Regions from separate parts of the Homo sapiens genome. Here region 2 is linked to region 1. Evidence: fine-mapped expression QTL. Tissue or cell type: testis. Region 1 holds a variant in brackets; the other region holds the start of a gene. All regions are shown on one strand. Distances are between the middles of the regions.

The links. PIP is the estimated chance that this variant, and not a neighbour inherited with it, causes the effect.
Region 2: it holds the start of TMEM232, and the variant in region 1 is fine-mapped to the expression of TMEM232 in testis (GTEx, PIP above 0.99).

What each region holds. Positions count from the first base shown.
Region 1 is chr5:110,430,036-110,435,189 of GRCh38, reverse strand. All of the region lies in intron 12 of TMEM232 (transmembrane protein 232), which reads left to right. Among named protein-coding and RNA genes, the nearest start is that of MIR548F3, 81 kb to the left of the region's middle. The variant G/A (reference allele first, on the strand shown) is at 2,176.
Region 2 is chr5:110,723,889-110,729,042 of GRCh38, reverse strand. TMEM232 (transmembrane protein 232) reads left to right here and starts at 2,372. Exons shown (of 14, transcript NM_001039763.4): 1 at 2,372-2,416.

The DNA.
Region 1 (5,154 bases):
GGTGGAATCAGAAAAGTTTTCTACATGAAGAGTCATATCAATAAGTGAAGAGAAATAATTTGACTTTCTCTTTTCTTATTTAAATGATGTTTATTTCTTTCTCTTGCCTGATTGCTCTGGCTAAGACTTCCAGTTGAATCGGAGTGCTGAGAGTGGACATTCTTGTCTTGTTCCACTTCTTAGTGATAATGCTTTCAATTTTGCCCATTCAGTAGGTTGTTGGCTGGGGGTTTTGAGGGATGTTCCTTTGATGCCTAGTTTGTTGAGAGATTTTTCATGAAGGGATGTTGGATTTTATCAAATGCATTTGCTGAATTTATTGATGAATGGCTATGATCAAATCATTTTTAAATTTCTCTTTATGTGATGAATCATTTATTGACTTGCATATGTTGAACCGTCTTGAATCCCAGGAATAAAGCCCACTTGATCATGGCGAATTAACATTTTGATGTGCTGCCGCATTTGGTTTGCTAGTATTTTGCTGAGGATTTTTCTATCTATGTTCATCAGAGATATTAGTCTGTAGTTTTCTTTTTCTCTCTTTGCCAGATTTTGGTATCAGGATGATAGTAGTATTATAGAATGAGTTAGGGAGGTGTCCTTCCTCCTCGATTTTTTGGAATAGTTTCAGTGGCATTTGTACCAGTTTCTTTGTATATCTGGTAGAACTTGGCTGTAAATCCATCTGGTCCAGGGCTATTTGGTTGGTAGGTTTATTATTATTATTACTTATTCAACGTTTTAATGGTCTGTTTAGGATTTATGTTTATTCCTGGCTTAATCTTGAGAGATTGTGTTTTTTCTAGGAATTTATTCATTTCCTCTAGATCTAGTTTCTGTGCATAGAGATGTTCACAGTAGTTTCTAAGCATTTTTGTGTTTCTGTGGGATCAGTTGCAATGTCACCTTTTGTCATTTCTGATTTTGCTTATTTGAATCTTCTCTGTTTTCTTTTTTAATCTAGTTAGCAGTCTATCAATAATCTTATTTATCCTTTCAAAGAACCAAGTTTTTTTTTTTCATTTATTCTTTGCATGTTTTGGGGGGGTCTCAATTTCATTTAGTTCTGCTCTGATTTTAGTTATTTCTTTTCTTGTGCTTTCATTTATTTTATTTTCTTCTGCTCTGACTTTAGTTTCTTTTTAAACTTTTCCAAAAAATCAAGGAGGAAAGATACCTCCTTAACTCATTCTATAATACTAGTATCATCCTGATACCAAAATCTGGCAAAGACATCACAGAAAAAGAAAACTACAGGCTAATATCCCTGATGAACATAGATAGAAAAATCCTCAGCAGAATACTAGCAAACCAAATCCCGCAGCACATCAAAATGTTAATTCACCATGATCAAGTGGGCTTTATTCCTGGGATTTAAGATGGTTCAACATATGGAAGTCAATAAATATGATTCATCCATAAAGAGAATTAAAATTTAAAAACGATTTGATCATAACCATTGAACAATAAATTCAGCAAATGCATTTGATAAAATCCAACATCTCTTCATGAAAAATCTCTCAACAAACTAAGCATCAAAGGAACATCCTTCAAAACCTAAAACATAAATCCTAAACAGAAAAACATAAATCCTAAACAGAATTGGGTTTAGTTTGTTCCTATGTTTCTAGTTCTTATAGGTATGAGGTTAGGTGGTTAGAGATTTTTCTATCTTCTTGATGTAGGCATTTAGCAATATAAACTTTCCTGTTTTTGATGCATCCCTGAGTTTTTGGTATGTTGTACCTCTATTCTCATTTGTTTCAAAGAACTTTTTATTTCTACTTTGATTTCATTGTTTACCCAAATGTTCTTCAGGAGCAAGTTGTTTAGTTTCAATGTATTTCTATGGCTTTGAGAGTTCTTCTTGGTATTGACTTATATTTTTATTCCACTGTGGTCCAAGAAGGATGCTTGATATAATTTTGCTTAAAATCTATTGAGACTTGCTTTATGATTGAGCATGTGGTCAGTCTTAGAGTATGTTCCATATGCAGATCAGAAGCATGTCTATTCTGTCGTTGTTGGGTGGAGTAATCTGTAGTTGTCTATTAGGTCCAATTGGTCAAGTGTCAAATTTAAATTTATAATTTCTTAGTTTTCTGCCTTGATGAACTATCTAATTATATCAGTGAGGTGTTTAAGTACACCACTATTATTTTGTGGCTATCA[G/A]AGTATTTTCTTAAGGCTAGAAGTAAGTGTTTTATAAAGCCGGGTGCTCCAATATTGAGTGCATATATAGTTAGGATAGTTAAGTCTTCTTGTTGAATTGAACCCTTTATCATTATGTCATGCTTTTTTGTCATTTTTGACTGTTGTTGGTTTAAAGTTAATTTTATCTGATTTAAGAATAGTAGCTCTTCCTCCTTTTTGTTTTCCAGTAGTGTGGTGGGTCTTTATTCATCCCTTTACTTTGAACCCATGCATATCATTATGTGTGAGGTGGGTTTGTCTCTTAAAGACAGCAGAAGAATGTGTCTGTTTTGTTTTTAATCCAATTTGCAACTTTATGTCTTGTAAGTGGAGCATTTAGGCTATTTGTCTTCAAGATTAATATTGAAATATTAGGCTTTGTTCCTTTCATAGTGTTGTTAGCTAGTTGTGTGGTAGTCTCGATTATGTACTTGCTTTGTAGGGACCGTGGGTTGTGTGCTTGCATGTGCTTTTGTGGGAGCAAGTGTTCTTTCCTTCCCATGTTTAGAGCTCTATTAAGCATTTTTTGGAGGGCCAGTTAAGATGTGATGAATTCCCTTAGAAACTGCATGTTTGGGAAAAACTTCATTCTCCTTCGTTTATGAAGCTCGGTTTGGCAGGATTTGAAATTCTTTACTGGCATTTATTTTCTTTCAGAATGCTAAATGTGGGCCCCCAATATCTTCTGGTTTGTAAGGCTTCTGCTAATAAGGGTTCTGTTAGTCTGATGGGTTTCTCTTTACAGGCAATATGACCCTTTTTGCTCGCTACCTTTAAAAATTTTTCTTTCTTATTGACTTTGGATAATCTGTTGACTATTTGCCATGGGGATGGTGACCTTATATAGTATCTCACAAGAGTTCTCTGGATTGCTTGTATCTGCATGTCAACCTCTCTACTTCTACAAAAAAATATTTTGTGTCCAAACTATTCTATGTGGTTGCATCTGGACTTCACTTACTGTAGCTCAAGTATTTAAAGTTTTTAAATACTTAAAGTATTTCCATTTTATAAAGCTACCAAAATTTATCCCTTGAACTATTGGTAAATATTTGATTCATTTCTCTTTTTATATTATACAAACAATGCTGCTAGGAACATTCTCATATATGTCTCTGCTGTTCTTTTCTATATATTCTGCCTGTTTTTTCCCTTGCTTCAGCCTAGATATTTCTGTTTCCCTATCTTCCAATTCACCAATCTTCTTTTCTGCTATGTCTAATCTGCTGTTATATACACCTACCAACTTCTTAATTTCACTTACTGCTTTTTTTGTCAATTCTATAAGTAATATGTGAATTTTAAGATAGATTCCAGTTTTCTAGCAAAATTCTTCACCTGGCTATTTATTTAAATATACTTATCATAGTTATTTTAAAGTCCATATTTGTAACTCCAATATAAACCTTCTGTGTGTGAGATTTGCCCAGTATGCCTTATCATTTTTTATTGAATTCTGGATTTTTTGTATTAAAAATGACAAAGACTCCTGGTTCATACTATGTACAGCAGAAAGACAGTTCACCTTCTTCTGCTATGCATCTTGATTGATGGCAGAGCATTTTCATCTAACCAGTAGCTGAACTGACTCCAGGATTATCTAACTTTTAAGTTAAATCTACATGTGATTCAAACATAACGCCAGAGTGTAAATTTTCAGGAGTCCCAATGGAGAGCCTGAGGTGTTCATCAAGGCCTCTCTCGTTTTGTAGATTTGAGCCCCAAATTTTCAGAAACTGTAAAGTTTCTGAAAAATTCCACTCTGCTTGTTGGTGACTTCTTTGCTTGGCTTCTTAGCCTTCTCAGTTTAATACTTTAGAACATTCTTGGGGGGAAACTTAGTGGTGTGTGTGGTGCTCACTTCTCTTGAGCTTGATCCTTCAAGTCCTGGCTACCTCGGCAGCTCTAAACTCTTTTTTGCTTTGTCAACCCTGTAAGATTGCCAAGTACTCTCCTGGCTTCTCAAGTTCTGATCAAAATTTCTCTGCCGGGATTTTTCACTTTTCAATCCATAAAATAAAAGGATAAATGCTCTAAGGAGAAGTATATTTTGCAGCTCATTACTTACTTCTCCAGGTCCTTCCTCTCTGATACATTGGCCTTTCAAATCCTGTTGCTTAATGTATCATGAATGCTTTTAAACAGATTTTTAAAAATAATCTTTGGCTCTCATAGCATTTGTTATCTGTCAGGTCATTGATCTGCTGCAAGCTATCACTTTAGTGACAAACAGAAATCCTAAAGGTTATTGAAAATTTTATTTAATACTGAGATTGTATTTATTCAAATGTTTATAATAAATTAGAATTTAACATAAAAATTCCCATGATCGATGATTATGACACTAGTGACCATGGGAAAAAAACTAAGTGAAATTTTAGAGGAAAACAAAAACATATTTTTAGAAACCCTCAAAGGCATTTATTTGTCTGTATTGTTAAGTTCTATTGCTATTGTTTGCTGATTTTATGTTATTCTATCTGAAATAGTAGCTCTTTTGAAACTGCATATATTTTAACTTTACCTTGAAGAGAGGAAGGAATTTATTTTCCTTTCAAGTAATTATTGCTTCAGGGATAGTATTAAGGTGACAATCTGAATATTAACCTATTTGGGCTCTGAGAACAAAAAAAAAAAGGAAACGTCTAAGTATTGGAGATGGTAGGTGCAACTTCAATACATAATATGATTGACCCTCTTTAGTATAATACCACAAAGCTAATTAAACGAGAGAAAACTTTGAGCAATAAGCTCTTAGAGAAAGTTAAAAAGAAAGTTAATTTAATCAAAAGTAACATGAACTTATGATATTTTGATATAAGATGATTTTTCTTATGCTATAGAATGATTTAATTAGTTTTTTTTTTCTGATATCATCCCTCTTAACTCCAGAAGTTTTGGGGAATCATCCAATATACCACCACATATTCCAGATTGAGGTTTCTACTATCATTCTCT
Region 2 (5,154 bases), 290 kb before region 1:
CGTGGTGGCAGGCGCCTGTAATCCCAGGTACTCGGGAGGCTGAGGCAGGAGAATCGCTTGAACCCAGGAGGTGGAGGTTGCAATGAGCTGAGATCGCTCCATTGCACTCCAGCCTGGGGGACAAAAGCGAGACTTCATCTCAAAAAATAATAATAAAATAAAATAAAAAAGACTGGTAAAAAAAAAAAAAGCAGAAAAAAACTGGGCAAGTAGGCAATGATATAGTTTCTGAAAGCATAATTGTGCCATACTAAGGGGTTAGGATGGTTTTGACATGCTTATTTTCCTAATTGCTAATTAATGGCCATTTTAGGATTATATATATATAGGTATATATATAATAATTTGAAAAAATTAGATTTGTCTTGTCAAAACTTCAATGTAGATGACTAATTAAAGGGAGAAAGGGGAGGTATGACTTTATTAGATTTATTTTTCTTACATAAATTTTCTAAATATTCTTGTCATTTTTTAAAATCATTGTGGGTCTCCTATTAGCTTAATATTATTGTGACTCTAAGGTTATACCAATATTATCTTAAAATTATTTAAAATTATTTCCTGTTTTAAGCTTCATTCCTCTGAGATTTATTGTTGCTATGGTATGAGATAGTAGTTCAGATTTATTTTCTTTCAAATTGTGCTCAGCCTCTGTACAGTTTTTCCCCACTGAGTTAAAATGGCAAATTTATCATATATAAATTTTATGCTTTTTCTGTAATCTTTCATTCTACTGATATATATATAAATAAAATCAGTAGATACATATATAAAATCAGTAGATATATTTAGAATAAGTAGATATGTGTAATATATATATATATGTATTTGTGAATTCTTCCTTATATAAACTTGTTCTGTTGTCTTCACTGTAGAATCGATGGGGTGACTTTTTTTCTCTAAACATGCTATAGTTTCAACTGATTCTTATATTATGGAGAAGAATTTTTTATTCGGCCTTCCTTTTATTCCTTTTTAATTCAATCTTCATTTGATTATGAATAACCTGGTTAACAGTTTGTATTTTTTTATGCTTTTAACACTTTTCTAGATCTCTTGAAATTAAAACAAGCAAGCCCCCAGGCTATTATTAAATACCACAGTCTTTTCATTTTTATTTTATCTGGATTATGGTAAGCACTGTTGATATTCTAGGATTTGTTCTCTCACATATGTAGTTTATAGTCTTTGTCAATTTCACTTTTCATTATTACCTTTAACTTACTGATCTTCTAGGAGTGATACGTCAGAGAAGCCTGAGATCACATATTGTAATTTCTGTTTTAAACATAAAAATGCACTCAAAAAACAAAAAAACTTAATTCCGAATCGAAGTAGTTCAAGTTAAATTTTCTTTCAAAGTTCTAATTTTTAAAGGCAGGTCATTTCACAGGACAATCCCTGTATATTACGTTTTAGTATTTTTTTTTTCTTTAGATGGAATCTCGCTCTGTTTCCCAGGCTGGGGTGCAGTGGCATGATCTCGGCTCACTGCAACCTCCATCTCCTGGGTTCAAGCAATTCTCCTGCCTCAGCCTCCTGAGTAGCTGGGATTATAGGTGGGTGCCACCACGCCTGGCTAACTTTTGTATTTTTAGTAGAGACGGGTTTCACCATGTTAGCCAGGATGGTCTCGAACTCCTGACCTCGTGATCCGCCCACCTTGGCCTCCCAAAGTGCTGGGATAACAGGCATGAGCCACTGCGCCCGGCCTACGTATGAATTTAATCATAAATGCCCTTCCCCATTCTTCCATATAGTATTTTACACTGGTGAACCTTTGTAAAATATATACAGTTGCTCGTTAGTAGACATAGGAATTCTACAAGGATTTTTAAAGGACTTATATTAGATAATTCTATTGCATACTACCTTTAAAAAGAGGCGTTCTTTTGTGTTTAAATTCGCCCTCTGGTGTTTAGTACATAGCAGAACATTCTAGGTGCTTTGTTTACTCACTGACGGGTGCTGAGGACACTGACTGCTCCAAATTTTCTATGTAAAAGGAACTTACGAACGGCAATTTAATTTAAAGACATAGCTACTTTTGGTATGATAGGCGTGCTGGTTTGTTTTGGGGAAGCAGCATTAAGACACTGAGGAGACATTAAAGCACTGTGAAGCCGCTTCTTGCCGTGGCTTCTTGCAGGATATGCAAGTATGTACAATATTCGAAACAAATCATTACTATGTTCTTTAAAAACGAATAAAGGTCTTTCACACAACATTGCATTTATTCTTTAGAAATTGAACACAAATGTGGTGGAGACGGGACAGGGCAGGTGGAAATTCACTTATAAGTCCTGATTGGCTAAGCCCTGGTCACGAGACCGTAAAAGAGCAACGTCTGTCTCAGAGCGACTCCCACAGCGTCCTTAGCAACCAGCCTTGGTTCCCAGCGGCTCAGAGCGCAGCGGTGAGTGATTAAGAGGTCCTGCTTCAGATGATTTGGGAGCTCAGGTTATTGTCATATTCACCATCCTAGGGCAACTGAAAGACCCACAAAGATCCTCACAGGGGAATACTGAGCCTCCTTTCTCAGGGTGCCATAGCTTTGTTAGAAGAAACACTACTCGCAACCCCAGGCTGGGCCTGCTATCTGGGCCCCTCCTAAGAGTCTAAGCAGTCCATCCTGGAAAAGCCACCAGGTCGTTTGATAGGGGAAGCTTTTTTGTTGGGGAGAATAAAGGAGGTGGGAACTTTCTTATTGCTATGAATAGGGAAATTCATTTAATCTCCCCTGGACTCGCTTATCCTGGGGCAACCTTGAATTCAGAAGACCAGTCTTCACACATCCTCTGTGGTTGGTGAAATTGCACCTTTTTGATTTTTATTTATTTATTATTTATTTAGTATGAAGACTCTTGGACTTCAAAAGAGAAGGTTCAAAAATTTGGCGCTCTGTGTGTGTGTGTGTGTGTGTGTGTGTGTGTGAAAGAGAGAGGGGGGTATATTGGAGATGTGTAATAAAACAATTTTTAAAAGCCGTTAATCTTGAGAAAAATATCCAAGTTGTCTATTAGAAAAATTTCTAGGAGGGGATAAGACTGTAGTAAGAGTCTCTTATTTACCTTACCATCTTAACAGTATGTCTGAACAAATTCTATCATTTGGTTGGTCAAATAATTTGCTTCCTCAGGTTAGAGTCTAAATCTTATATTCTCTAATGCATGTTACCTTTCCAAAGTCTTGATATAATTTTAATATTATCTGTTTTTCAGAAATTGTCTTTTAAAGTATACAGTTTCAACCTCATTTTTATTGGAACTTTAAAAAAATACATGAAGAATTAATAGTAAAACTAAAAAAAGAAATCTGGGTCTGTGCCAGGTTGCAGATGAACTGCCAAGCACCCAGGCAGACTGCTGGAGCCATTTCATGAGCTGAAACATTTCTCTTTAAAGTATAAACATTCTTGGTTTGGGTAATCCACATACATACTTGATTGAAGGTAGCAGATTTTTATTTCACTAAGACCTATTCTGCATGGACCCTTATGATCTTAATGAGTAGTGCTATATTCTTGCTGAACGTCTGATTCATTATCAGAATCATTCATTGTTATGATAAATTTGATAAATGTTCCTGTCTTGAAGTTCATTGTCCATCCAGAGCTCCTGGTAAAGTGTCTGCTCACAAATGCTTAACATTTTCCAAAATGTGTCCTGTATGTAGTTCTAGGAGATGATGTTCTAAAGATTTCTTTAGTCAATAAATTTTAAAGTACTACATGTCACACTGCTACTCAGAGAGATGTAGAGTATATATGAGAATATTAACACTGAGAAATCTTAGTATATGCAAACCTACTTATTTTTGTCTAATCCAGTGGTTTCTCAAACATTTCACAACAGAAAGCTTTTCGAGGTAGTTTCATCCCAAGAAGCAGTATTTTACAGAATGTATTTTAGAAATTAATGTTCTAAACTATATATCACACTTTTTATTTTTGCTTATATTTCCATAAAACCAAATGAATTCATTTCTTTAAAATGTTTCCTGCTGATTCATTACAATACCAAAGAAAACAAATCTCTTTAAAAAATATACCACCTTAGTAAATTATTTTATTCCTATTACTTTCATTGCGTTTTCAACAGTAATATAATAAATCACTTGCTAAATCTATATCGACTTTAGGATTACTAGCTTCTTACTATAACATGGCAAGTTTTTTTGTTGAAACCATATTTTTAACATTATAATATTTATTATGTAGCAGGTGCTCTATACCTATCTGGTGAATGAATAAATAAAAGATAATTGATTTCTTTTTTAGAGTTCCTTTCTGCAGAAGACTAGTCATTTAACTATTTGGTGAATGAATAAATAAAAATAGTTGATTTATCTTTTAGGATGCCTTTCTGCAGAAGGCCAGTTAAATGATCTTAACAGTAGTCCACCAGAAAAATGATGAGAACCTAATCTCATGGCAGTGGCCGTGATCTAGGATTTGATTCCTGATTGTTTTGGGAAGTTATAGAGAGCATGGAATTGAGGATAACTCTGAAATTTCTAGCTTGTCAGTTTGAGTGATTATATTAACTGAGATTTATTAAAATAATACTGGATTAAGAGCAGTGTTTAGGGACCTGAAATGAGAAAATAACAGGTTAAGTTATACACAGTTTAGATGTTTCAAGTACTCGTCTTTGAGCTGGGTGCCCAGAATTCAGTTGGAAAACAAATCTAGAGCTCAAGAGAGGTCAAGATTGGAGGCAGCTGCTTGGGAGTCATTGTTCTACAGTGTGGTTTACAGTATAGGGATGGATGGCATCAACTCCAGAGAGGTGAGAATATGAAGAGAAGGGTATTCTGGCCACAGGACTGATGTGAATATCGAAAGATATAAAGTATGTGAAAGTACTTTGCAAACAATAAAGTCCCATGCAAGAGTTATTATTATTACATCCCAGAAGGCTTACTGAAGAAATAGGTTTGAACTAGGGTTTTCAGGAAGGTGTGAGATATCCTAGGATTGTATTTGATGGAATATAACAGAAACTCGTCTCCAACAACTTGACTGTGGTTCATCTCTAATGCCATAAATGTTCCAGGCTTCTGTCTTTGTGTCCCATCATCTTTGTATGTGGTTTTCATCTTCCTGGTCATCTCTTGATAGCAAGGTGACTGCTCTATCACCATTCTTATGTC